Linked DNA regions of Homo sapiens. The protein of the gene in region 2 interacts with the protein of the main gene of each other region in a pairwise test. Each region holds a gene or a part of one and is shown on either strand. Other genes may lie near its edges.

Region 1 (7,026 bases), on a different chromosome or scaffold from region 2:
CCAATATTATTTATTCCCCTTTTCTCATTGCTTATTTAGAAATATATTGTTTAATTATAATATATTTAAGGAGTCTGCAGGTATATTTTCATTACTGATTTTTAATTTAATTCCACTGTAGTCAGAAAACATATCTGGTATTATTTAAAACCTTGAAAATTTATTGAGACTTCCTTTATGTCCTAGAATATGATCTATCTCGGTGAAGGTTCCATGTTTGAATGGAATTTGTGTTCTGCTGTTGTTGGGTGGAGTATTCTCTAAATGTCAGGTCAAGTTTATTGATATTGCTTTCAATACGATATCCTGCGGTTCTGACTACCTAGTCTATAGATTAATGAGAACTGTGCATTGAAATACCATTCTGGACATAGGACCTGGCAAAGATTTCATGATGAAGACTCAAAAAGCAATTGTAACAAAAACAAAAATTGACAAGTGGGACCTAGTTAAACTAAAGAGTTTCTTCACAGGAAATGAAGTTATCAACAGAATAAACAGACAACCTACAGAATGGGAGAAAATATTTGCAAACTATGCATCTGACAAAGGTCTAATATCCATAATATCTAAGGAACGTAAACAAATTAACAACCCTATTTAAAAAATAGACTGGCCAGGCACGGTGGCTCACACCTCTAATCCCAGCACTTTGGGAGGCCAAGGCAGGTGGATCATGAGGTCAGGAGATCGAGACCATCCTGGCTAACACGGTGAAACCCCATCTCTACTAAAAATACAAAAGAAAAAAATTAGCCGGGCATGGTGGCGGGTGCCTGTAGTCCCAGCTACTTGGGAGGCTGAGGCAGGAGAATGGCGTGAACCCGGGAGGCATAGCTTGCAGTGAGCCGAGATCACGCCACTGCACTCCAACCTGGGCGACAGAGCGAGACTCCCATCTCAAAAAATAATAATAAAATAAAATAAATAAATAAAAAGAAAAAATAGGCTAAGTACATGAACAGATACCTCTCAAAAAATGATATATATGTAGCCAACAAGCACATGAAAAAGTGCTCAATATCACTAATCATTAGAGAAATGCAAACCAAAACCACAATGAGATACTATCTCACATCAGTCAGAATGGCTATTAAAGTCACAAAAGAATGGATGCTGACAAGGTTGTGGAGAAAAAGGAATGCTTATACACTGTTGGTGGGAATGTAAACTAGTTCAACCACTGTGAAAAGCACTGTGGCGACTCCCCAAAAAATGAAAACAGAATTACCATTTGATTGCTGGGTTTATACCCAATGGGATTGCTGGGTATATACCCAAAGGAATATAAATCATTTTACCATAATGACACATGCATGTGTGTATTTATAGCAGCACTATTCACAATGGCAAAGATATGGAATCCACCTAGATATCCATCAATGGTGGACTGGATAAATAAAATGTGGTACATGTACACCACGGAATACTACACAGCCATAAAAAAGAACAAAATCATATCCTTTGCGTCAACATGGATGGAGCTGGAGGCCATTAGCCTATGCTAATTAATGCAGGGATAGAAAACCAAATACTACATGTCTTCACATACAAGTAACAGCTAAATATTGAGTACACGTGGACACAAAGAAGGAAAACAGACACTGGGGCCTACTTGAGGGTAGACATAGGAGGAGGGTGAGGATCAATAAACTACCTATCGAGTACTATGCTCATTACTTGGGTGACAAAATAATGTTACACCAAATCCCCATGACCCACAAATTTACCCCTGTAACAAACCAGCACATGTACCTCCTGAACCTAAAGTAAAAGTTGGAAAGAGAAAAAGAAAAAAAAAAAAATCTTGAACTCTGATTGTGGATTTGCCTCTTTCTCCTTTCAGTTTTTGTCAGTTTTGCTTCATGTATTGTGAAGCTTTATTATTTAGGTTCACACGCCTTTAGGACTATGACATCTTCTAGATGAATTTACTGTATTATCATGAATTGCTTGTCCTGAAGTTGACTTTGTCTCATATTAACGTAGCAACTCCAACCTACTTTTGACTAGTGTCTGTATGTTACGTATCTTTCACCATCCTTTTGCTTTTAAAGTATGTATCTTCATTTTTAAATTGTGATTACAGACAACATAGTTGCATCATGCTTTTTATGGTAAGTTTATAAATTGATGCCTGAGTCTATCTTTTTAGCCAGCTTGAAAATTTCTGTCTTTTAACTGTAGTATACCATTTACATATAATGTAATTACCAGTATGGTTGGATTTAAATGTACTATCTCTTTTCTGCTTCATCTCAAAATTATATTCTTCTCTACATTAATCATTCTTTCCATTTCTGAAACTTACTTTTAGCTTGCTCTTATATATTTCAGCTTGTTCTTCCTGGTATAATTCTTGTCGCACTTGTTCCAAATCTTCACGTTGCCGCAGCATTTCTTCTAATTTCTGTGTCAACTATTAAATTTTTTAAAAAACATAAATATTTATAGGATCCAAATTCTGTAACTAATATTTCAGAATTTTACTAGTGTTAAAGAAGTGGTTATTTTAATACCGCATTCTGAAGCTGTAGCCTTTTCTCCTCATTTTCTTGAACTTTTGCCATCCGATCTTCTTCTCTTTGCTGCTGCATGTTAGCAAACTCTATGATTTTTCTGTTTTCTTCTTCCATCTCCTCACGTTTCTTTTTTCTCCAGAGAGCCTGCTCTTTCTGAAACTCTTCTATATACCTTCGCATTGCATTCATTTTTTCTAACTTTTGTTGTTTTTCCCTGAAAAGCAATAACAAGTACAGATTTATAGTAAACAATAAAATATAAAAAAGTAATTTCATTTTGTTCATAATAATGTACAGAAAAACACTATAGTTTTTTCATTCGTGCATGCAACAAACATTTTGAATGCTTACTGTGTGCTAAATATAATGTCAGGTATGAATTTTTCTTTGGGTAGAATACTGTGATAGTCTCCTCTAACCTATTAATGAAGTTTTATGCATCTTATTTCATAAAGGCTACAATCTGTTAACATTAGCTTTGCAGCACTCTATACTTAAGCTGTCTACCAAAAAAATTTATCAGAATACCTGTCCTCTGACATATGATATGGGCATATATAAGAAAAACAAAGGTTTAGGTCATTCAATCACTTCAGCATTTATTAATCATCAGATAATTCATTTATTAATTATGCTAACGGAGATGAGAAGGAGTTGGTCCCAATTTATGTTTTCATAGCTAGTATTTATTGAGCACTTACTATGTATTAGGCACTGTTCTAGGTGCTTCAGTTCCTCACAACAAACCTGTGATATATCTAAAGTAAACATTTAGACATGTAAGAAAGTTAGGATAAACTTACAACTGATCTTCTTCATAGATCTTCCTAACAATTTCATCAATCATGAGTTTCTCTTTTAGCAGCTGCTCATAAGCTTCCTGCTTTTTTTTTTCTTGTTCTTCAAGTTGTTTCTCTAAGTCAAGATAGTACTGTGCTTTCGCTTTGTTTCGTTTGTCTTCTGCAGCATTCTCTTCCTTTATTATTCTCTTGTGTTCTTCCATCATGGTTTTGGCTATTTCAGCATCACGTTTCTGTTATTAAAACAAAATTGATCTTTCCGTTTTCAAATTTGAACATAGTACGATAGTATATTTTACACCAATGTTATTGAATATTATAAAGTCTTTTACATAAAATAAATTTTTTCATCTGTCTAGGTTAAAAAGCAAAAGTAAGTTATTATTACCTGAAGGGTGTGAACAATAAGTCAGACCCTAAAGCAGCTTTCCTATCCCTTCAAGTAGCTCTCTCAGGACAATACCTGATAAGGATTATTAATAACTCCACATTCAAAAAACAATGAATACAATTGTAAGTAGTTTCTTAATAACTATTTAGCTGCTAAAGCAGTCATTATCTTATTATTCTATTTATAAACTGAGCTAGGCAATTTTCATCGTTTTTAGCTTCATTGTTTATCAGCTGCTATTTAAAGATGGTACTGCCTCTTTCTTACAGGTCTGCTATTAAATGGCTTTGAGCAGCTCTTAAGTTTCTCCTAGCCTAAACTTTCTTTCCTGCCATTGGCCCTTGACGTTTCCCCTTTCTGATTTATTAAAGGCCCTTTATCTGAAAAGAATCACAGATGCTACTGTGCCTATTTTCTACAGCTTTTAATTCACTCAAGACCATTCCCATTGTCAAGAGACAATCTTTCTTCTTGGATGGGTTAAACCCCTTATTTCTTTTGAGCATTTTTCAAATCATTTAATAAAATAAGTTTTAAATGAAATATACTGAGGCAATTTTTTAAACTACGCTTTACTTTTATGATCACATCCCGAATGATGGAATGGTCAGCAGCATCAAACATAAAGAGTAAACAGATTAAAATATGAATACTGAATGTCATTCCTGACGTCACTGAAGCCTTTAACATATACTCTGATAATATGACTTGACCAAAAATGTTTCTGATTATCTTCTTTGTACATGCTATACTAAATTCTTTATTAAAAAATGAGATGACAATAACATTTATGTGTAGATTACCACACACTTACCGAAAACAATGTTCTCATTTTACAGATAAGAAAACTAAGGCTCAGAGAAAAAGCCAAAACTAGTACTTGCATGACACCTAGTCAAGTCCTAGTAGTATTCGACTTTCATTTTGTGGATCAATTTTTATTTGGAAAATAGCAGCAATTCTCGTAGGAGTCAGATTAAAACGTCTACAACTACCTTGAATAACTTCAACTATCAGGATAATTAAAACTGCAAACCACTGGACAAACAGGACATTGTTTGTGCTACTTTCTTTTTCAAAGGACAGCGCTATATGGCTTAGCAAATGAAGTCTCTCCACCTTTTCTTATCACCTGCCACACCTAAAGGTATTCCTGTTAACAGCATGCTGTGTACCCGCTAGACATTTTCTATACTAACACAATTGTACACACGCAACACACACATATATGTGTCATTTATGGTATCTATTCTTAATTGATACCCATATTGCACTGCACTGGTTAAGTATTTTGATATCACCCCATAAGAGTGTGTGTGTGTGTACATATGTTTATGTGGACATACACAATAGATATGTATGTGTATATAAACATTCATATATAATTGGCCCTTCTGTTTGATAATGAGAGCTCAAGGGATGATGTGCACCCTTTTAATTAACTGTTAATTCAGTAAACCCTATTATATATTCATACAGCAAAGCACTCCTAGTGAGTATGCCTGAGATTCCTTTGCCCAAGAGTAACTCTTATCTTCAACTTGGTACCATATCAGGAGTTAGAAAAGGGGATAAAAGCAGAGAGAAACATGAGAAAAAGAGATGGCTTTTATAAAACTGGAAAGTTTCCTACATAAAATTATCAAGTAGTTTACTCTTAAAAACATTTAAATAATTAAAAATTTCATAACATTCTAAAATACACTTATCATGGTAACAATTTGTACTGTACTACTTTGTCAGTGAATAATCAGTTAGAGACTATAAAGAATGCTGGGAGTTACTGAATATAGCTGGTCATTCTAAGCAGCAATGTGTTTCTGAAAGGCTCTAATATTAAAAATGAAATCACGCAGGATTTTCTACATCTTAAGGATCTGAAAATTTACAAATATTTAAGAAATCTAGCAGTGTAAATTCTTTATACAATATGACAATTTTTTAAGAAACAAGTCTAATTTTTATTTTCTAAATGAAGCTAAAAACATAATGACCAGAAACATGATTACCATTTGTTCATATTTAATGGCATCCTTTTCAGCAATCTGAGCTGCCCTTTCTTTATTCATGTAAGCTGCTTTTAATTTCTTCTCCAATTCTCTAAGCTCAATGCTGTTTAAAAAAACAAAAACAAATTTAAATGTTAGGACCATAAGAGAATGAAAACCTCACAGAAAACTGAGTAACTGTATTTTTAATTTACTCAAAGAGGGAATACAGCGGGTATTATTTTAGATCCATAGGAGAAATAATTCATTATATTTAATGGATGCCTTTAGGGCATTAGGGCTTACATTTTCTGGTTGAAAAGTACTGCTCTGTTCTATTACATTCATCTGTTTGCTTATCCTGTGTCAATACCACACTATCTCAACTGCTGTAAATTATAATACGTCTACATATCATGGATAAGTCTCCAATTTTGGTCATCTTCTTAGAGACTGTCTTAGCCATTCTTGATACTTTCATTTCCATATACATTTTAGAATCAGCTTGTCAGACTTCACAATAAACAAAACTGGCTGTGATAGTACTGAATTCATAAATCAATTTGGAAAGTACTAATATCTTTACATTACTGAGTCTTCAATAAACATAGTATATCCTTCTAATTATTTGGTTTTTTAAAAGTCTATCGATGTTTATATCTGTGTTTTATTTTGGTAGTTTTATACTTTTCATTAGGTATTTTTCATATCCTTCTGTAGATTATTTTTCAAATCTCACTTTCTAATTGTTGATAATTTACAGAAATACAATTAATGTTTATATACTAAATTTATACCCAACAATATCACTGAATATATTTTTTAGTTTTCAGTTTTACTGATCTACAATATTCAATAAACTGAACATGTTTAAAGGATACAGTTTGATAAGTTTTTACATATGTATGCACCTGTGAAACCATCACCACAATCAAGATCATGAACACGTCCCAATCACTTCCTTATAAACCTGTGGTACCTCTCTTCTACCCCTTTATGTTCGCACTTATCCTGAGGCAAGCTAATTTGCTGTCACCTTAGGCAGTATAAATTTTCTAGAATTCATATAAATGGAATCATAGTGCAGGTACCATTTTTCTCTGGCTTCTTTCACTCAATATTTTCAAATACATCCATTTATTGCATATAGTAATTGCTTACTCCTTTTTATTGCAGGATATTATTTTAAGATTATAGATATCCACTCGCATTGCTTATCTATTCACATGCTGATAGACATTTGAGTTGTTTCAGGTATGTGGATATTGCAAATAAAGCTGCTATGGAAATTTGAGTACCAGTTATTTGTGGTCACAGGCTTTCAT
Region 2 (7,026 bases):
CTTCTGTTTCCTTATGTAGCCAACATGATCTGATTAATTCTCAATCAGATGAGCAAAAGCCACTTGAAGAAAGATGAGAATCTTTGCCACATCCTTGTGGTCACAGTAATATACTGTACGAGTGCACATGATCAGTAATTTAGGGACTGTGCCCTGGAATGAGGCCTGTTCTTGAGTCTCATATAAAAACAGACCACTGTTAGGCATGAGGGCTGCCCCCCTCTTTGCTCCTAGGGTCCGCTAGGATTTGTGCTATGGTAGGAGAAATGACATAGAAAATGACAACAAAAAAAAAAGGCACGAAATATTCAAAACGTGGGAGGAGTCTACCAGGCCACCCAGTCACACATAATCCTCCTTGTTTTTTGCTCTGTTCAAGAGTCATCATCATGCAAAGGTGCCTAAAAAACAAGACTGGCCAAACTCCAAGCCTGGCCTTGATTGTAGCAGTAATGGATGGGCAAGCCCATCATCACACCAGTGTGATTTCCACATCTTCAATCTTCTCTGCTGGCCTTCGGTGATTCTGTGTAGGTGGAGGGGGAGCTGCCCGGACCTGAGCAGGAAACAATTACGTAGTTTGTCAGTCAGTTCCTGACTCAGTATCTGAAGCATCCCCAAAACCTAATCACTCATCTGTCCAAGGACATGGGCACCCTAGGGGTCTCAGAAATGTTGTGAGCACGTGCTTTCAACCTAGTCTTCACTATTTCCTACACTGAGAAGCAGTTGTTCTCAATGAAATATCAAGCCCACAAATCAGCTTCTTGCCTAGGCTAAAAACCTCATGGGCACAAGTCCTATGACTAAGATCCTAGCACATCCTCCAAAGCAAAGGTCTGGCTGGAAGCAAGGGAGAGCAATGCTTAGAGAAATGAAACATTTCAGTGTGTCTTGGGTAGAGAGTTACAAAAGAGAAGGCTAGAAAGGTAGGCTAGGGTTAAGTTGTGAAGGGCCTTGTTAAACCATGTTTAAACATCTGCTTTAAGAAGAAAAAAATAAATCTGTGCTTTATTCTGTAGGCAAAAGAGGAGTTTTTGGTGGATTTTAAGCAATATCAGATCTGCGAAAAGATGACTCAGGTAACAACTGGAGAAAGGATCAGAGGCAAGCAAGAGTCCAAGTAAGAAGGCAACTTAGGAGACTTTTGTAATCCTCTGAATGAGAGTTGACAATAGCCCAAACGAGGGTACTGGCAGTAGGGGAAGTAGAGAAGTGGAAAGATTTGCGAGCTCTCTGCAAGGTATACCTGGCAGGATTTGGGAATGACTGTGGGAGGCAGGGGCAGGAGGTATTAAGAATGATGCCAGAACACCAGTAGGATGGGGGTTCCATTTACCAAGATAGGCAATATGGGAGAAGGAACATGTCTGGAAGGGAACATAACTCATTTTTGCTGAGTTTTGGGGATCTGGGATATATAAACTGAGATATCCACACATCTGAAGCTCAAGAGAAGAGATCGGATTGGCAGTTATAAATCTGAGACTTGCTGGCATATAAATGGTTATCATAGCTGTGGAAGTAGATGAGGTCATTCGGCAAGAGTGCGTTCAACAACTTCAAGAGAAGCAGCCCAGTGACAGAACCATGAGAATTATCAGCAGAGACAGGTGGCGGCAAGGCTGCAAAGGTCCACAGAAAGGTAGGACCAGAGAGGAAGAAAGCAAACGAGGCAAATGTAGAGAAGCACATCAGCCCACTGCTCTCTCTTCCCACTCTTACCCACCAGTCCATCTTGCCACCACTTCTTTCTTGGATGCTGCTCCAGCCTCCTAATCGCTCCCTATATCCTTTCTGCCACCCTCCATCCATCCGCCTCTTAGCTGCCATAGCGATGCTTTAAAAATGCACCAGCCACAACACTGTCCAGCTTACCACTTTACAATGGCTTCCTGTCTCATTTGGGATAAAGACTCAAGTCCTTAAGAAGGCACTCAATACATATTTGCTGAATGAATGAAGCCAAAAGAAGCCAGTGGTAAAGGAATGGTATCAAAAGCTAATAGGGGTCAAGGAAAATAAAATTGCAAAGTATCCGACTGGATTACCGTGCAAGTTATGACCTTGGAGTACAGTGGTGGGTGGAATGCAGATGGCAGTAGAGTGAAGGGTGAGGAGAGGTAACTTTGCAATAATATATTCACCCGGAGAATAAACGCTCTTTAAGGCCATGAAGTTAGCTTATTATTTCATCTTGGTATTCCTCAAAGAGGCAAATAGAGGCCTGGAAAATTAAATGCTTACTGAAAAAAGTGTTTCACAATTAGCCCGCTTTAATGCTCATAAAGTTTGTTCTATTCTAAATCACTTTCATAGCCATCATCTTGCAATCTCACTGTGGCTCAGTGAAAAAAGTTCCAGTGTAGATTAAATGTCCCGAGATGAGTTGATTTCTATGGCCTTCCTTTTCAATAGCTCTTTTTACCTTCCCAAACCCAGTTCATCCTTGTTTGGCATAGTCAGTAACAACACAGGGGCCACGGGGAAACATTAATTCCTTACTTTCAATTTGGAAGAACTATGCATTCGATAATCCTGCAAGATCAGAGACTTACAGGTCGCAGTTTGCCATATGAGGTCTCAGGAGTATGCCTTGATGCCTGTGAGAATCCTGGTGACTCAGCATGAAGGCTTTTTTCTAAGGGAGAAAACCAAAGAAGCTCATTTTACTTGAGTTGTTGAGCAATAATGCTGATGCAAGGCTGGCATGGTGGCTTGAGCCTGTAATCCCAGCACTTTGGGATACTGAGGCGGGAGGATTACTTGAGGCCAGAAGTTCAAGGCTGCAGTGAGCTATGATCCCACCACTGCACTCCAGCCTGGGTGACAGAATAATACCCTTTGTCCAGAAAAAATACAAAAATTAGCTGTGTGTGGTGGTGCATGCCTGTATTCCTAGCTACTAGGGAGGCTGAGGCAGGAGGATCACTTGAGCCCAGGAATTGGTTGCTATGAGCCGTGATCATGCCACTGAACTCCAGCCTGGGTGTCCAGCCCAGGTGACAGAGACTCTGTCTCCAAAAAAAAAAAAAAAAAAAAAAAAGCAAATGCAGTTTTTTTTTGCCCTTCAGGCGAATATGTAGGTTTCTGAAGTGAAAATGCATTTAGACCCATGCCCAGGAGAACCCTTACCGTTTGCTGAAGGAGACCGGGGAAAGTACAGGGAGCTCCTCTTATCTGGGCTGGGGTAGGGGCTGCTGGGAGGCTGGTCGTACAACGGCAGTGGAGGCAGGGAGGCGTGTGGCTTGGGGGAAGGAGAGATCTGCAGCAAAGGGAAGCGAGGTTACCCGGTGCTCCCCTCCAGGAAGGAGAGCCTGGCTGCTTCTCTGACTGCTCTGTACTCATGCCTTTTCTCTAAAGCTAAGCTGATTGTTGAAACTTGTCAACCTCATTAGAGGCAACTGAGCATTAAATAACCACCTCAAGCTCCAATTTTGCATTGCACTTCACTTTTTCCTCTTACAGATCTCATCACATTACTGATTTTAGTTTATCTTAAACAGTTATCAAGTGAAGCTACTCTCTAGGGTTCTATTGAAAATGTACCAAATTAGTCAATTCAGTAAACTTAGCAAAGAACAACAACAACAAAAGGAACAAGTTGGATTTTTTGGGGTGAAGATAAAATACTTTGCTGAATTTCTGACTTCCCCAGGTTTTGTGCATGTTAGGCTAAGGGGTCACAATCACCACGCAAACAAGATCGGCAAACACGTTCCTTCTTCCTCTACCTGTCTGGCCTGCAGTGATAGATCCCTGAGGGGACAAACTAAACTCTGACTGAATTAGAGGTTCCTTTAAAGGCTGTTTCCCTGTGATGAACTAAGTCTAGGGTCACTTGAGTGGGGATTAGGGGCTCTGGCAGGCTCATTAATTCTCTGAAATAGACTGGCAGGACCTGGACTAGGCAAGGAGGCTCTGACAGTGAGGGAGAGAGAGAGCCAGCTAAGAGTTTTACTACGTAAATTAACCACAGAGCAACGCCTTCCCTCTTCGGTTTGTTTCTTTCTCTCCACCAAAACGATCTTTGGTATGTCACATATAATTTGGCATTTTGGTTAACCAATTCAAGGAAGAGAGAGAATGTGGGAAGATGGAGGTGTGGGAGGATGGCCACATTCCACAAGGGACTGACTGACAAGTCTCTGGTTTCCCAAATGCAGTTGTGCAGACACTGGCAACCAAGGACCGGTGAGGGTAAGGCAGAGACTGCAGCCCACTTTTGTGTGGATCCACAGACCCTTTGGGAGCAATTTTCTTTAAACATCTTTTAATTCAACTGTCTCCCCTCTCAGGTACCTGAATCTCTCTCATCCATGGAGTGTCACCATTTTCTGAGGCTGAAAGTTCTTCCACTAGCACCGATGGGAAAACTCCAATACGCCCATTGAATTCCCCTTCCCAGAAGCCATCATCATCTTGGTTTTCTTTGTTCAAGATACGGATTATTGCTCCCTCAGGAAAAGATAACTCATCATCTGTCTGGCCCTCATAATCATAAAGTGCTTTCACAAAACATACTAGGGAGCAAGAGAAAAACAAATCTGGTAAGATAATTAACAGCCGGTTGCTTTTGCAACCACCCCTATGCTCACATGACAACTAAAAGAGCATCATACAGAATAGGATTAAAGTTGTAATTTTTTTACTCACTGATGAATGATTAACTTTAGGGTTCTACTGTGCAGGACAAACGTGACCATATAAAGAAAAGCATATTATAGGACAGGAGGAAAGTTGTGCTTTTTATCCTACTGAAGGCTTACTCCAGGGCAATACAGTTTAGGTCAAACGTGACCAAATAAAGAGTGCCTTGTTTCAGTCTTTACCACTGGCATCTCCGTTGAGGCTGCCTGAAACGAGTTCTGCTTCCGTGGAATTGCTGGACGTGTGTGACCGACTGTCCAAAGCGGCCAGGGACTGCAGCATGCTCAGGAGGCTGTTCGAGGTGGGAAACTGTAGGTACTTTTCTGGCACATAACCCACTTGGCCAACTTTATTTCGAGCCTGGGTAAAAGACATGTGACAAAACAAGTTTACACACACAATTTAGACAGGGCACAACAAAGACCAAAACAAACTCCTAAAAATGTCACAAGAAAGGGCGATATGAGCAAAGGAATATACCTTTACCCAGTCTTCCATATCTCCATCTTCAATCACTTCTAACACCTCATGTTCCTCAATGGTCAACTCATCTGGTTGAGAAGCCTGCAGTGTAGGATGGTCATGGACAAAATTAAAAAGGTTAGATAAGGAGCAGATGTGAGCTGATCATGACAAAAACTGGGGATCAAAATATTGAAATGATTTTGAGAAACATGTTGAACATAAAAATTTAAATGCTGTAAAACTTTCATAATGAGGTGAAGTTTTACTTTAAAAAACTAAACAGAATAAAACCATAACAAAAACTCAAGAAACTGAATCCTCAAGAGGCAATGACGTTCAATGAACAGAACATGTAAGCCTGGGCAACACAGCGAGACCCCCATCTCTACCAATAAATAAATAAATAAGTAAATAAATAAATAAAATTAGTCAGGCATGGTGGAACATGCCTGTAGTCCCAACTACTTGGGAGGCTGAGGTGGGAGGATCGCTTGAGCCTGGGAGGTTGAGGCTGCAGTGAGCCATGAGTGAGCCACTGCACTCCAGCCTGGGCAACAGAGCGAGACCCTGTCTCTAAAAAAACAAACAAAAAAAGAGAGCACTTCCTGGAAGTAGAGGACCTGGGTTCCAACTCCAGCTTCTGTATCAAGTTATTCAACTTGATGCCTCCATTTCTTTGAAATGACAATCCTGCCATTTTCTGGAGGATGTGAGTCAATGTGGGATGGATAAGCACAGAACTGTGATGATTTGGGAAGCAAAGGCAAACGAGAAGGCACTGAATTGGAACTGCTACCAGAGGGCTCCCATGGACAAGCATGCAGTGAAAATGCAAAGAACTATGTACGTGAATTTGATGATAGTGGGTGCAGTGCCTAGGATTGATCTGGAATCACTGTAAAGCAGTGGCCAAAAGAAAAAAATTGTAGGAAAGGAAATGATTGAGATCAGTCATGGTTTGGATTTCTTATGCTCCAACTTAACTGTGTGGAGACTGAGCTGATCCATTTGCGTGCTACCGTACAAGCTGCTAACCATAATGGTTTTATTATCCCTGACAGCAGCAATCCACCAGCATCAGCCACCCACATGTTGCCCTTGAGACTGCCAAATCTGTAAACGCTCTGAGGCTCCACAGAGGGGCTGGAAAGTCCGTGTGGCTTTGCTTCCTAACAGTCTTGCCTGTCATGTGTAATAGACAGGGGCCTGCTGGCTTCTGGCTCTCTAGAAAACAGTCTTAAAAGCTTTCCCCAAGTCCCAAGATGGGTTAAAACCATCACCTAAAACCATAAAGTTTTTAAAATCTCACAATCTCAAAATGTAAAATTAACTCCAAGTTACACAAACAAAAATAAGGCAAAAAAGGGGTCATTTTCAAGATCAATTTCCCATTTTATGAACATTAAAACATTTCATCAAAATCCAGATTCTGGATGTTGCCATAGCTCCCTGAGACAGAAAAATAATATTGAGGAAAAAACCCCACTCATTTACCCTTGATAGCTTTTCCAATGGAATTCCTTCACTACTCTGAAACCACACTATGCCTTGAATATGCCAGCAAAAGGCATTTTTGTAATAAAAATGTTTTTCATGGCAAGACCTAAAAAGTATCAACACGACCAGACGTTAATGTATGTGACAGCAAACCAGGGAGGTAGTACACTTTTAAATAAACTGCTGCCCTTATAAAAAGCTATGGAGAGGCTGAGTGAGGTGGCTCACGTCTGTAATCCCAGCACTTTGGGAGGCCAAGGTGGGTGGATCACTTGAGGCCAGCAGTTTGAGACCGGCCTGGGCAACATGGCGAAACCCTGTCTCTATGAAAAATACAAAAAATTGGTGGGTGTGGTGGCACGTGCCTGTAATCCCAGCTACTTGGGAGGCTGAGGTGGGAGGATCACTTGAATC
Region 3 (7,953 bases), on a different chromosome or scaffold from region 2:
CTCTGATCTCCAATTTCTTCATCTGCAAACTGGATGTAACAATGCCTTCCTCACAGTGTTTTGGTGGGAACTGAAGAAGATGATGCATGGAAAAGCATTTTGTACCTTAGGCTGAAAACCTGCACTGTCAGGCACCACATAGCACACTACCATCCCAGTGCACTGTCACACGGGCCATCTAGGTAGGTATTTGGATGGCTATTTTATAACAATGCTGAGGCTCCAATAAATGAATGAATTTTCCAAGAATGACACTCAACGATCTAATTCAAGAGTCATATTTTTCCCACGATATTTACACTGTCAATCAAAATGGAGAAAGGACTGTGAAGCCCAAGAGCCACTATGAGGGTCTGTCCTTAAAGATCGGTTCCAGGGGCTGTGCATCTTGGAGACGGCAGGGACTGTCCTCTCTCCCTTTGTCCCCCCTGCCCCACTGTGGCCTTCTGGAAGAGAGGAGGGTCCTAGAAGAAGTCACGCGCCCTCTCCTGCTCCCCAGGGTCTCTTAACCCAAATCCGTCCAGAACGTGGTAAAATGTGCCACAGCTCTTTGAAGTCAACTATTAAAATTGAGATGTAATACACAGCTGCATGTATTTAATTCCTCATAAGGAGACTACAATTTGCTTTTCCTTTCTCATTTATTTCATTCAACCAACAGAAGTCAGAATGCCCTTACTGATGAGGTATCAGGCAAGAATCCATTTTTTAAATGTACAGGCTGAAGAAATAAGTAGGAAAGGCTTGGCAGACTGACTGCCACACAGTAGCATGGGCACAAGAAGCCACTCTAGGGTTTTCCTGCCAAGAAGTTTTGAGTGAAATTTCTCTACCCATGAAAAATCATTAGCACTGACATCGCAGGGATAATCAATTCTCATTCTTACGGCTAAGGCAGAAATTCTCTCATGTATGTGGTTCTGGAAAATTCTTCTCACACATACTGATCATAGACCCTGATCTACTAAATAATATTAGCTAATAATTATAGTAACTAATAATTGTAACTGAAATCCTAATTAATATTCATTAACTAACTAATAATAACAATTATAGTAGCAACTAATATTAACTAATAGCAGCTAGTAAGTATAAATAACATTCACTAATCATTAGAATATTTCTTGAGTGCTGATAAACACTTGACACCATGCGGGGCACCCACGCACATCATTTCATCAGTCCTCATGACAACACTATGATGTAGGCACTATTCTTATCCTCATTTTACAGACAAGGAAATTGAGGCTTAACAAGGTGAAATAACTTTCCCAAGGTCATACAGTTACAAGTGGCACTGAAACATTTGCTTAGGGAACCAAAACTAATGGCTTTTCCAAGACCCTGGGATGAACATTGCCTCTCCAGGTCATCCAAAGCTAACTAAATTATGGGCCCAAACTTCAAGAACACAGGACATCAAATAAACCTTAAAAATCCATTAACTTATTGATTGTCTTCTGAAGAATATGTAGACCAGGTCTACAGAATATATAGAGGACTGGCTGGTAAGAGGTAAAGTTTTTAGCAATGAGCATCAACAACGTATTTAGAGCCCACCAAAACCATTTTCCCCCCCAAAAAAATTTTTTTATCCAATAGCCAAAAAATTTACTCCTTCTAGATCAACTGAAAGTTTCAGCAGTCATCAATAGCCACAAAAGATTTCGCAGAGTTTCACATTTGGAGTGTGTTCTCATCTTTTTCGGCTAATTTGTTCTAGAGATCACTAAAACAATAGCTGCTCAGTTGTACTTAGCAAAAGGGACAGCCAAGCTATTTTCTCTTGCTTTCTTCTCACCCTCTCTGGAAACCTCATGAACTTTCGGGGCTGGGAGTGGTGGCACTCAGCGGCTGCCTTTGGGGCTGTCACCCCAGCCAATGGCTTACTCTGGGTACTGTTTCTGGCAGAGTGGCTGCTGAAATCCCAGCCGAAACCTGAGATCCTCCAGAAACTAGATATAAAAGGAACAGCCGCCTTGCTGGTCTCTAACTCTTGGGTTTAATAAAACTGTTTTTTCTCTCCACAGCCTTCCTAACTGCTGCTAAAATGCTGGTCGAAATATCAGTTCCAGACAGACAGACACTATATAGGTTCAAGCCTAAAATCAAAGTCTGACCCATTTCCAAAGAGAAATGTGTCACTTCATCACCCCTATTTCTTACGGCAGGTCCAGCTTGCACAGAATGAAGGCCAGAATTGAAGAGGTAGATGGTCTCAAGAAAATTAGACAAAGCACTGGTTATGAAGGTCGGCTTTCAGCTCTTATTTTGGGGCCGTCTGAATGCCTGGAGTGTTTATAACTGTGGCCTGAGAGATGTCTGCTCTGGTCACTGTGACATCACTTTCCTCAAACAATGGATTACACATGCTAACTTTACACTTTCAGTATGGTTACATCATTACATGGCATATACAAGTGATTACACCCCAGAGTCATTTTAGCAATCTGGTTCATCATCCGCTCCAAACAGTGTTACACAAAGTATCATTTATTTACAATTTTAAATTAGTTTAAGCCTTGCAGAATGAATGGCAGAAACACATACAAAAAAGTCCCTGCTTCTATGATATTCACAAGGCAACACAACACAAATCACATGTTAAAAATTCTAGTGTCAAGCACGCCTCCTTACTCGAATCCCTTTTCACACCCAGCCATCCAGATTACACCCTTTCCATGCTTTTTCAACACTATGAAATCAAATGCAGAAAGCAAAGGGCGCACATACTTATTGCAGAGCCACAGCTGACTACACGCAAAAAAGAAACTGAAGGCCAACGTTGGCCATATTTCCAACCCTAAGTTATTCAGAAAAGAGTATAGGAAGAAAGAGTCCACCAGACACCTACCGCTATGGACCCAGAAGATGTAGCAACAAACACTTTGATAACCATTTCGACAGTTGGAAAGAGGACTCCCCCCAACACACCCCTGTCAGGGAATGCGCCGCTAGACAAATCCTGACAGTGACACAGGCAAGCAAGTGCCAGGTCGGGGCTGGCAGCAGCCCAGGGGTCCACTGGGCTCCGGCAGTCCCGCTCCAACTTAAGAGGCTCTGTCTCTCCAAGGAGCAGCAGAGGCATCTTGGGCTCCTCCCTCCATTGGCCCAGGAATATTTTGGGATCTGTCAGGAAAATATTTGATTGGTCGATAAAAGCAGCCACTGGACCCTTTCCCTATCACTTTAAACGCGCGACAACAGTCCCTAAAAGGCCAGGCTGTGCTGTGCACCAATCGGAGACCTGTGCAGAGATGCCTTGGGGCCAAGGGAGGTGGGGCCCCGGTAACAGAGCAGCAGGAGGCGAAAGAAGTGAGGGAGGAGCTCTTGGGAGCTGGAAAAGCCCAGAAAACACCACCTCAGTCTAGGAGGAGGCTGGGTTTAAAGGGCTTTTGGCAAACAAATAAACTGGAAGGGTCAGAATAGCCACAGAGGCCTTTAAGTAAAGAGCAACTTTGTTTTTTTTCCTGGCAGGTTAAAAAAAATTTTTTAAGTAAACTGTCATACAATAGAAATGCCTTTAAGAGTGGCTGTTTCCAGTGTGCTCTCTTTCCCACCTGTTTCTCCTAAAGAACAGAAACTGACCAGCCATGGGCCATCTAAAGTTTCACTGACATCCAGGGAGGTAGGGAAATAGCCGCTGGCTTCTCAATACTCATGGCTGCAACAAGCCAATTGTCTCACTATTTTATTTACTTGTCACTGACTTGAAGTTTATTAACTATTTTAAAGTGCTTGGGGAAAAAACCAAAATAATCTGTTTATAACAGGCTCTTTGTTTACATAGGTATTTTGTGTTTATTTATATATATTTGTGTTTATACATGTTAATATTTATATAGGTATTTTGAATTGTGTTAAAAGTTAGAGAAGGTCCGGGGCAGTGTCTCACACCTGTAATCCCAACACCTTGGGAGGTCAAGGCAGGAGGATTGTGTGAGCCCAGAAGTTCAAGACCAGTCTGGGTAACATACTGAGGTACGACTTTACCAACAACAATAACACAAAAAAAAACAGCCAGGCATGTTGGCAGGCGCCTGTATCTGTATTTCCAGCGACTTGGAAGGCTGAGGTGGAAGGATCCCTTGAGCCCTTTAGCCAGGAGTTTGAGGCTGCAGTGAGCTATGATCACACCCACGGCACTCCAGCCTGGGTGACAGAACAAGACCTTATCTCTAAAACAAAACCAAATCAAACAAACAAACAAATTAAATTAAAGGAATACAAAATCTAGCAAAGAAGCCCAAATGCCAGTTATGCAAATTCTTCTGATAGATTTCAAAATCAAGATCAAGGGCATTAGGGACAAAGGGCTAGTTTTTCAAGAAGCACTTGGGGGATATTTAGCTTAGATAACTGAGTCTCTTACTGTCTCTCTCTCTCTCTGTTCTCCGGCTCCCTTTTTAAAATCCCCTGCTGCCCATCATGGATTGGGTGGCACCGACGTTCCGAAGCAGAGAGGAATCTCCCAGGCTTCTGTACTCCCTCTTCACCTGAGTCCCAGAGCCCCAGAGGCATGTTTCCCACCCCCTCAGGTAGGTGCCTGCAACGAGAAAAGACATCCCAGTCCCCGGAATATCCCAGTTCCTGGAATATCGCTTAAATGCCCCTACATCACAATGAATGATTGAGGTGACTACCAACATTTAACTTTTGGCTTCAACATGCAAAGTTAGCTGCTCCAAAAATAAGGTCCTTGATGAAGATGATTAATGGTTCCCCAAATTTAAGTCAGTAGAATTATAAATTTTATTTTAAAGCACACCAAGGATTACAGATCAGTTTTTCTTTTCTGCATTTTCAAAATTTCTACAGTACGTATTATTTTTTCATACAATTATATATTTTCACACCTTAAAGTCTGCCACATAAGCATGCCATATTTCTCCAAATATTACTTGAAGAAAGTGGGGGCATATTTTCTAATGACTTTGTAAGTTAGTAGCATAAACTATAGCTGGATTCTCAGGTGCTCTAGAGAATACGCATCTCTTGATTATATCAGGTGAAAACTGCCCTCAATAATGACACCTCCTCCATCTGCAAACCCTGGGGAGAAATTAATTTCCTACTCAAATAACAGCTAACAATTTGTAGGTGTTGTCCATGTGCCAGATCTGCTCTAGGTGCTTTGCATAAGCCACTCCCTTAACCTGTATAAGAACCCTAAAACTGTGTTCCATTATTATGCCCACTCACCATGAGGACACAGAACTAGAGATGATGGGAATAGGAAATGGCATATCCAAGACTTAAGCCTCACCCATTCCTCTCCACACCACATGAGAAGCTCCTGAGATGCTACCCTCAAATTCCTAGTGCCCCCTTTTCACTATGAATTTTTTTAAGTTTATTCTTTTCGAAATGACCATAAAAATGTACAAATTAAAAATCTGAAAACTCCAGCTGAAAGATTCCTTCTAATGTATTATTACACTAATGACACAAACGAGCTTCAACATAATTAACAGGAATAGCGAACATTCCAAATGCATCTTAAAATAAAGCTCAATGAACCCCTGACTTACAAAATCCACTTCAGAAAGAAGGTGTATAATTTAGTGAAGATGCAAGCAGCCAACCATTCAACATCTCCAGTGCTTGCTGTTTATGTCTGTTCACAAAGACCAGGAGATCCACGGAGGAAGGAAAGGAGATTTTATTTTTAGGGGGAGATACAACCTGCAGATTGGGGAATGCAGCTTACAGAAAAAACCAAAAATGCACATGCTGCAGAAGGGAGGAAGGAGCTGGTATCTGTGTCTTACAGAGTCAGCCTTACATACATACTGAGCAAGGTTGCAGAGGATCTACTAATATTTATGAGGAAATTCAGGCATGTGTGCAGTGGGTAAACATATATGTATCATACATTCCATGTTCACCTTGGGGTGGAGTTCTAGCATTAAAATGGGATGGAATTTGGCTCTTTATATCAACAGGTGAACTATAGGGCACAAAGACATTTTATGTGCAATTTCTATAAGCTGGCCAAAATTGGCTGGAGGTCTGCAGCTGTTTATCAATAAAGAATGTTTATAAGACCAGTCCTTTGTCCAACTGGAGTTGTAGTAGGTCTGCAAGGCGTTTGGGGGTGGGGGCGCATACTGAGGGAGGGAATGTTTCCATTGGCTGGCATCAGGCAGTCTATCGGGGTCAGTTGGAAATTTTCCAGCTGAAGTTGTGTTGGCTATGCTTTTTCGAAGCTGGTTTCTGCTTACTTAATAGCAGTTAATAATGCAAAAATACGTAACTAACCCCTCATCCTTCTGGCTGTGACATTCTGGAGGTTTTGTTTTGTTTTGTTGTTTGTTTTTTGTTTGTTTCTGTCACCAGGCTGGAGTGCAGTGGCTTGATCTCAGCTCATTGCAACCTCCACCTCCCACATTCATCTCCTGCCTCAGCCTCCCGAGTAGGACATTCTGTTTTTGGTGCATCTCATTTTAGGAAACAGGAGTTCATTTTGTCCGTCTGTTGGAGTATATTTTAACAAGTCAAATAACATCACTTTTTGATTTGATTAATTTTGATTTAAAGACATGAGGTACTGGGCTACAAACTTCATAGAGACCCCCAGATGATCTCATGATAAATGATACCAGATGATATGTTTTGATTTACATAACTTTACAGATAACTTAAAATGACAAATAAAGACACGTCTTTATTATGTAGAATGATGGAAATGATTACCATAATAACTGTAGTGGGTTGAATATTGTTCACCAAAATTCATGTTCAGCCAAACCTCAGCATGTAACCTTATTTGGAAATAGAGTCTTTACAGATGTAATCAGTTGAGGGGGTCTTGTGATTAAATCATCCTGGATTTAGGGTGGGCCCTAAGTCCAATGACTGGTTGTCCTTATAAGAAGACAAGACAGGGAGACACAGAGAAGAACACCCTGTGAAGATGGAAGCAGAAATTGGAGTGGTGCTGCCACAAGCCAAGGAATAGCAGGAGTCCCCATAAGCTGGAAGACTCAAAAAATTCTCCCTAAGAGCCTTCAGAGGAAACATGGACTTTCAGACAACTTGGTTTCATACTTCTGACCTCCAGAAATGTGAGAAGATAAAGTTCTATTGTTCTAAGCCCCTAAGTTCGTGGTAGTCTGTTATGACATCCCTAGGAACCTAGGAACCTAATATAGAGAAATAAAGGCTATGCTTTTTATGTGGCATGATGGAGATGGCCCCAGAATAGTGAAAGGCCATGGCTCTTCTCCTTCCATTGTGTACACAGAAAAGAACACCCCTTCGAAAGCAAAAGCAAAGGCCAGGCACGGTGGCTTATGCCTGAAATCCCAACATTTTGGGAGGCCGAGGCGGGCAGATCACTTGAGGTCAGGAGTTCAAGGCCAGCCTAGCCAACATCGCAAAACCCCATCTCTACTAAAAATACAAAAAGAATTAGCCGGGTGTTGTGACTCACACCTGTAATCCCAGCTACTCAGGAGGCTGATGCAGGAGAATCACCTGAACCCAGGAAGCGGAGGTTGTGGTGAGCTGGGATGGCGCCACTGCATTCCAGCCTGAGCGATAGAGTGATACGTCTCAAAAAAAAAAAAAAAAAAAAGCAAAAGCGAAAGCAAAGAAAGATTCAAGGGCAGATTTGCAGTGACTTATCATGTCTACAGACTGGGAAAAGCTGGTAGAAAAGAGGAGGAAACCATTCTCAGGAAACTCTACCTTTCAATTCCTCCAGTCATGAGCTCCAGGGTTGGATGCTCCCGCAATGGCAAAACTCCGCTCTCGTTACTGTCATGGGGCCACCACCACCCACCAAGCATCAGCCCATCTTTCCATAATGTCAAGTCTAGAGTGACATTTGTCTAATGTTTGCCTACCTGGAGATGTTGCCCCGCCCACCACCACCAGCAAAAACAACCGGCACCCATCTTATACGGATAATTCCCTACCTAAGGAGTTCTAGAAATGCATGGCCCACCA
Region 4 (7,026 bases), on a different chromosome or scaffold from region 2:
GCTAAGGTGGGAGGATCACCTGAGTCCAGGAGTTTGAGGCTGCAGTGAGTTGTAATCGTACCACTATGCTCCAGCTTGGGTGATGGAGTGAGACCCTGGCTCAAAAAAATAATAATAACAAATAATAATAATTAAAGTCCATCAGCCATTTCCTAGTGGTTCGCTTATCCCAGAGCCATTTTTCCAGTAACTTGAGTATTAGCAAAATAAGTTTTTGATCAACAAAAGTAGATGATATGAAGTGTTTGTGTATGCTTTACAATCTTATCACAGAAGAACTTTCTCAGAATATTTACTGCTATGGTTTGAATGTTTGTCCCCTCCAAACTCATGTTGAAATGTAATTTCCATTGTAACTGTATTAAAAGGTGGGACCCTTAAGGGGTGACTAGGTCATGAAAGCTCCACCCTCATGAATGAAATGAATGCCATTATAAAAGGGCAAGTTTTGTCCCCTGTTGCCCTCTTTTTGCTCTTCTGCCTTCCACCATGTGAGGATGCAGTGTTCAAGGTGCCATCTTAGAATCATAATTACCAAACCTGCCAGTGCCTTGATCTTGGACTTCCCAGCCTACAGAATTGTGAGCCAGTAAATTTCTGATCCTTATAAATTACCCAGTCTAAGGTATTCTGTTGTAGCAGCACAAAACAGACTAAGACGTGCACTTACAGCCTCTATTTTCACTTCTTAAATAATTTCATTTGGTTTGTACTTAGCTGGTTTTGCATTCCACAGCAGGTTTGATACAGCAGTGCAGCACAGAAATTAGAGGTGTGCACAAAGAGGTTGGGGTTTGAATTGTGGCAGTGCAGCAGTCTGCTGGTGATATATCTTGGGGAAGTTACTTCATCTCCTGGCAGTTTTCTCATCTGTAAAGTGGATGTGCCTGCCTCATAGAATTGTGATGAGCTTATATAAGTAAGACAAGACCTATAAATCCTAGACCTTGGGGTGTAATAAGCACTATTATAATTGTGAAGTGGAGTGGAGAAGAGCTGCCAGAAGCAGGCGCTCTGACAACAGTAAGATGTGACTATTTTCAGCCAGATAGTGAGAAGACACCATCTGTTTAGTAATCTGTTCTAGAATTTTCCTAGGATCTACATCAAGTAGTCTTAATTTTTTAAATTCACCTTTTAGCCCATTCTGAAAAGTGAAGCATTAGCCAATCTATTCTCCAAAATCCCCTAGTTCCTAAATTTCTGTAATCTCTGCAGAAATTACCCCAGTTACAATTACCAATTATTCCATTACTCCTGCTTACAATTTGTCATTGGCCTAAAAACTGGCACTCTTATAAAGTGACAAAGTGAAGTCCAACTCTCTCATCAGCTCTTCAGGGCTTAGTTCTTTGGTATGTGTTCATCCCATCTTTTTCAAGTTAACTGTAATTTTCCTTAACAACCTCAAGTTGAATGAATAGTTCTGACTTTCCTGAACCAGATTCTTCTCTCCAAACTGTTAGCCGGAACACAAAAGATAACCTTTTTTGGGGCTGTAGGATTTCACTCAGCTATGAACAATTTTTTCTAGAAAACATTATTTTTGCTGCCTTTGACAATTGTATAAATTATCAATTTGTAAAATTTTATAAATTTATAAATGTCTTCTAAGTTTCTTGACAATCTTCTGACAAGCTGACTCCATTAATTATTTTTTAAATCTAATGTTGTATATGTCTTTTATACATGCCTGTCTTTTTAGAAACTAAGCTCATTTGAGAGCTGACTCCCTATGCAGCCACATAGGTTTTTTTTTTTTTTAAAGAAACATCTCCCTTTTTGCATCAATGTAGCCTTAATTGTATTGTCAGTATTTTACCTATTAGAATTGCATATTTATCCCCCTTGAATCATAGTTTAGAAGTCTTTGGCTATGGAACCATAGTTGATTTTCAAAAGGCAGACTTGCTTCCTTATAGCCCACGGTAGGTGTTTGATTATACCGGAAGTTACTTTCATATCCTAACTGTATTCCAGGAACTCCTAGGTGTCATAGGGTTTCTCAAGCATTTTCTTACTACCACCTAATCAACCAGTTTTAAAATATTTGGTCAGAATTAAGTTGAGTAACAGTTCCCCTCTCTACTCTCTCAACTTCCAAGAAATCAAATTGTCATACATGCTAATGAAGAATCTCAGTTTTCCCTTTCTTGTGTACTTAGGTTTTAGTACCAAAATTCAGTAACATTAGAGAGATTTCCCCTTAGAACAAAGTTTATCAAACTGAGTCATTAGTGAATGACAAATCAATGAGTTGCAGTCAGCAACGTGAAATGAAATAGGAAAGCAATAAAATAGAATAGAAAAATAGTTAAGCACACTGCATATAGTAAGTATTTTGTGAAACTTTTGTTTCAGTTTTATGTATGTATAGCATTGTGTGCTCTTGTATGACATAAAATGTATTTCATGGTTCAGGCTAGGGACTAAAACTTCTGAAAACCACTATTTTTAGATGATAATACATTATTTGTATTGTCATAATGAAAAGATTACAACATAATTTTTTAAATTAAATATTTTATACATACACGTGTACATATATAATAAAATCATAGTATAAAACAAATACAGCTATTTTGCTGATTTTTACCACTTCATTTGTTGATAGAAGGAAGGTAGCTTAAGAATTCAGCAGCTGTATTTTAGCTAAAAATTTGACAACTCATTTTCCAGTGCCTTCAAAGAAATACATTTTTTGTGAAAAGATATTTCCAGATTTCAGAACTCCACATTAGTACTGGGATATCCACTAACTTGTTAAATTGAATTACTGAATATCCATAGACATCAAGCAATACATGAAAATGCCCTACAGTATCCAATATTGTGTTTCCAATTATTTTCTATAAAGGGTGACTGGTGGTCACATGGTAAAGCACTGGAACCTGTCTTCCTACCACCTTACGACTCTAAGAGCACCCAGAGGAGTGACTTCCAAAAACCATCGTGTCCACTGGTTTTGCCAGTCAAACACAGCAAGATGCAAAAGCCTTCTTGTGGAATAGGTAAGGTTTTGCAGTGGTAAAAACCTTTTATGTTATCTCAAATTATTGCTACCAAAACTAAGATGTATTAGATGTCCGGACAGCTCCTGAAAATAATTACTTCTCTATGAAGTTGAAAATACACACACAGCAAATACAGCCCTTGGGAAGTTTGTTATTTCTTCCTAGTGGACAGTTTGTCTCCAAATGCAGTTAATATGACATAATGAAAATTGTATTGATCATTAATAACACCAGCCTCAAAGTCAGAAACTTAGTAGCATCCTGCTCATTGTTGTTGCCACCACATTTTAAGAGTTGTAACTATTGTCACTTCAAGGAAGGTAGCTGATGAAGAGGGCTATTAGATAATCTGTAACAATGACTTGTCCTTTAGAAAGATAATAAAGTTTCCACTTCTGGTTCAGGATAGCAGACTGAGCACACATATCTAAATTCCCTGCCTTCCAAGACCCTATTACTATAAATAGTAGCAAAGCAATAAACTCTTAAGAGTGAAGAGAATAGAAGGAAGAACTTTCTGGAACGTAGCAAAGACTAGAAGCCTATTGATAGATAAAAGAGAATAAAGAAGCAATTTCTAGAAGGAGATGCAGCAAAGAAGAGACAATCTGCCTGGCCAAAGCCCTGACTGAGCTACACGCCGAGCCAGCAGGCATAGTGGAAGGCAAAAATGAAAAGCGGGTAGGAGAGAGTCAGAGAGTTACTTCAAAGCCTGTCCCTTAAATAAAGGCTCCAGTCATGAGCACTCCACCCTATCCCAACATTAAGACTACTAGAGCCCAGTGTCTTAGCCAGATGTCAACTACCACACCAGTTATTTCGGTAAATCAAGCTGATCCCCCGTCCCCTTCTTATAAATGGACAACCAAAGATTAGAATTATGCCAGTTAAAAAAAAGATTTGGAGAATAAAGTCACGGAAGTATCACACAGCATAAAACAACAAAACAAAAGCTTGGAAAATGAGAAGGAAAGCAAAACAGAAGATCTGTTTGGGAAATCCAACTTTTCTGGAGCTCCAGAAAAGAGAAGAGTAAAAATGAAGGTAGATAATTAGCAAAACATAACATTTATTGAGCACATACTATTTGCCAGGCACTTTATGGAACTTTCTAAATATTAACTCATTTAATTCCCACATGAACTCTATGCAATATAATAGTGTAGTAATACTATTAATATTCTTATTTTTCAGATAAGAAAATGTAGGGAGGCAAAATTATTTTTTAACATTTTAGTGTTTTTGGCTGGGCTTGAGAATTAAATTGACACAAAGATCAACAGGAGAAAAGCATACAAATTTATTTAATACAAGTTTTACATAGCAGGGGAGCCTTCATAAGGAAATGAAGACCCTAAGACACAGAAAGAACACATATACTAAATTGGACAAAGAGTAGTACATTGTAAAAATGGGACAAGGCAAAGGAGTTTGGGCTAGGGTAATTGGGTAGAGAAATGACTAGGAAGATAAGGGTGAGTTTAACAAGGTTTACTTGTCTAGATTTCCCCTCACCTCAAATTCCTGTGCTTGGTAAGAATGATGCTTTCCTTCTGGTATAGGGAGGATATCTTTTACGTAGGAATTTCATCTCCTGCTTTTGAGAAAGAGAAGGAAGGTCAAACTGTTTTTCTTGCATCTGCTGTTTTTCAAGTGCCTTTAACTCAATATAGTCAATATGCCAGAGTGGCATTTTAGAGTAGCATGTTCTGAACTCCTTTGAAAGCAAGCATGGAGTTGAAATAACGTGCCCAAGGCTAGAGTGAATAATTGGCATTTGCACCCAGCTAGCCTGACTCCAGTGCATATACTCATAACCAGTACTGTATAGTACTCTACACAACCTCTAAAATAATAACAAAGTTTCCCTACATAAAATGCATTAAAAGGGTCTACTGGGTGCTTCTAAGTGTGAAGGGGAAAAATATGCACACCCTACATATCATTACAAAATTGCAAAACAGTCATCATCAACAGAAGATTCTAAAAGTTTCCATAAAGGGATAGAAAAATAAGTCACCATCTAAGAAATAAGTATCAACATGGAATCAGGCAGCACTGATGCAAGAGTACAATGGAGTTAATATCTTCAAAGTTCTCAGGGGAAATACTTTTTGACCTAGAAAAGGGAATTTATTTGGCACGGATACTAAACCATTTTTTTTCAAGTGGCACTGGGCATTACACCCACTGAGAAGGAAATGAAGTCCTGGCACAACATTTGACCCTTAAATGAACAAAATGTATGTAATTATGTAATACTATGCATGCTGTTTAGTAGTTTTCAACTTTTAGGCTCAATCTATAGACACGAGTTTAAATATGGTTACACAACAGAATGTATCTTAGCAGCTTTAATAAGAAAAGTAAGTGCACAACTGATAGAAGATGAGAAGTAGAAGAGAAGAAGGGTGCTAACATCATTATTTGCAATATAGGTAATCAGTTGATACTATCCAGTGGGGGTGAAACAAGGAATAGATGTTTAAGGTGAAAGGTCAAAGGAACCAGTCTAAAAACCAAATTTCTCTAACCCTGGCTTATTTACTGAGCTTCAAGTTCACATATCCAAACACCTACTTAACATCTCCTCTTGGATAGCTAGTCACCTTTTCAAACCTGATATGGCTGGAATAGAATGTTTCATTTCCTCCATCCAAACTTATCCTCCACTAGTCTTCTCCATCTCAGTGAATGCCACCTCCACTCTCCCACCAGGTGTTCAAGTTTTGATAAGCTAGAAGGCATTATAAAACTCTCTCCTTTCACTCCCTGCCCCCACATTCAATCCATCAGCAAATTGTGACACCTCTATCTCCAAAATAGACCCCAAATCTATTCCTTTCCATCTTCACTGTAACCAGTGCAGTACAGCTGCTATTACCCTGCTTCCTTTCTTCTTTCTCCATATATGTTTTCTGCATCATTGTCAAAGGATCTTTTTAAAAACACATGTGATATTCTCCTCCTTTAGATTCTCCAGTTACTTCTCAACGTTCATAGAATAAATTTCAAATTCCTCACTATGGCCTACACGGCCCTTTTTGATCTGTCAAATTTACCTACATTATCTTCTATTGCTCATAATGTGAGGATTTAGAGACAGAGAATATAACTCAGACCAAGGAGGTAGAGACACTCTCTGAAAGTTAAGCTTGTTTCCAAACCAGATTTATGTCTATGTACTTGTTACTGTATTTCCATATTTTAATTATATATTCTTGTAAATTAAAATCTGAATAAGAAAAGAAAACAGTTGTTTCTATAAAACATTCAAAATTGAATGTACAGACTTGATAAAAGGTCAATTGCTAACTTTAAAAAATGCTACTTAGGTATAGGCAAAATAACTAAGAGGAGTTGGACTGAATTTTTAAAATCTTGAAGGATTTTGCATTCATTTTGCTTGAAATTTGTCTTTACATTTTCATTCTGTGTGAAAGAAATAGAAACTGGAAATGATGCATTAGAAGTGTGGTTTGTACAAGAAACACAAAGTGGAATTCCAGTCAGTGGACACCTCCTCAAAGAAAATGGCTTGGCATGCCAATAAAAATTTGATGAACTGGTTAAAATATGTATCTACATATGGCATATGATTTTTTGCTTTAACTTTCTTTGGTAGCCAACCAGTCCCTTCCACATAACGAGCAGTTATGGTACTTCAGCTACTCAAGTTGAAGGGATGTAGAAGAGTGGTGAAAGATGACACTGGAGCGATGGGCTTTTTCTGGGTTCATAAGGCAGGGCTCAGTCATTTCATAAGGGATCCCCCAAAATCAGGGTCTGTAGATCTACTTAATTTGCCCAGAGAGAAATCCTCCAAACCTCTGCCTAGGATGGAGGACAGAAAATCCAGGAGTCCCATAAGCAGTCCTCTGCAACATCACCTTGTCCCGCTGCCCCATGCTCCCTGCCTCAGAGGTATGTGATGCCTCCCGATTCCCAGGCACTCCTGGAATGCTGTGGCATTAATTGGCTTAATTTTTACCCCATTCCCTTCCCCCATAGC

The links.
Region 1: the proteins of FCHSD2 (region 2) and MNS1 interact in binary tests that used the Homo sapiens proteins (3 or more experiments, as listed by UniProt).
Region 3: the proteins of FCHSD2 (region 2) and SH3BGR interact in a two-hybrid assay, tested with the Homo sapiens proteins (one study listed by BioGRID and IntAct).
Region 4: the proteins of FCHSD2 (region 2) and CIMIP6 interact in a two-hybrid assay, tested with the Homo sapiens proteins (one study listed by BioGRID and IntAct).

What each region holds. Positions count from the first base shown.
Region 1 is NC_000015.10:56,441,119-56,448,144, forward strand, and holds part of MNS1 (meiosis-specific nuclear structural protein 1), read right to left. Parts: intron 5,826-7,026; coding exon 5,723-5,825; intron 4,766-5,722; exon of another isoform or gene 4,553-4,765; intron 3,556-4,552; coding exon 3,326-3,555; intron 2,737-3,325; coding exon 2,520-2,736; intron 2,420-2,519; coding exon 2,312-2,419; intron 1-2,311. UniProt on the Homo sapiens protein: Microtubule inner protein (MIP) part of the dynein-decorated doublet microtubules (DMTs) in cilia axoneme, which is required for motile cilia beating.
Region 2 is NC_000011.10:72,838,319-72,845,344, forward strand, and holds part of FCHSD2 (F-BAR and double SH3 domains protein 2), read right to left. Parts: intron 5,423-7,026; exon of another isoform or gene 5,215-5,422; coding exon 5,131-5,214; exon of another isoform or gene 5,011-5,130; coding exon 4,833-5,010; exon of another isoform or gene 4,524-4,832; coding exon 4,303-4,523; coding exon of another isoform or gene 4,299-4,302; intron 3,266-4,298; coding exon 3,136-3,265; intron 2,642-3,135; coding exon 2,559-2,641; intron 557-2,558; coding exon 473-556; 3' UTR 1-472. UniProt on the Homo sapiens protein: Adapter protein that plays a role in endocytosis via clathrin-coated pits. Contributes to the internalization of cell surface receptors, such as integrin ITGB1 and transferrin receptor.
Region 3 is NC_000021.9:39,447,043-39,454,995, reverse strand, and holds the start of SH3BGR (SH3 domain-binding glutamic acid-rich protein), read right to left. Parts: upstream 3,027-7,953; 5' UTR 2,900-3,026; coding exon 2,855-2,899; intron 1-2,854.
Region 4 is NC_000002.12:54,340,863-54,347,888, forward strand, and holds part of CIMIP6 (ciliary microtubule inner protein 6), read left to right. Parts: intron 1-2,857; coding exon 2,858-3,011; intron 3,012-7,026.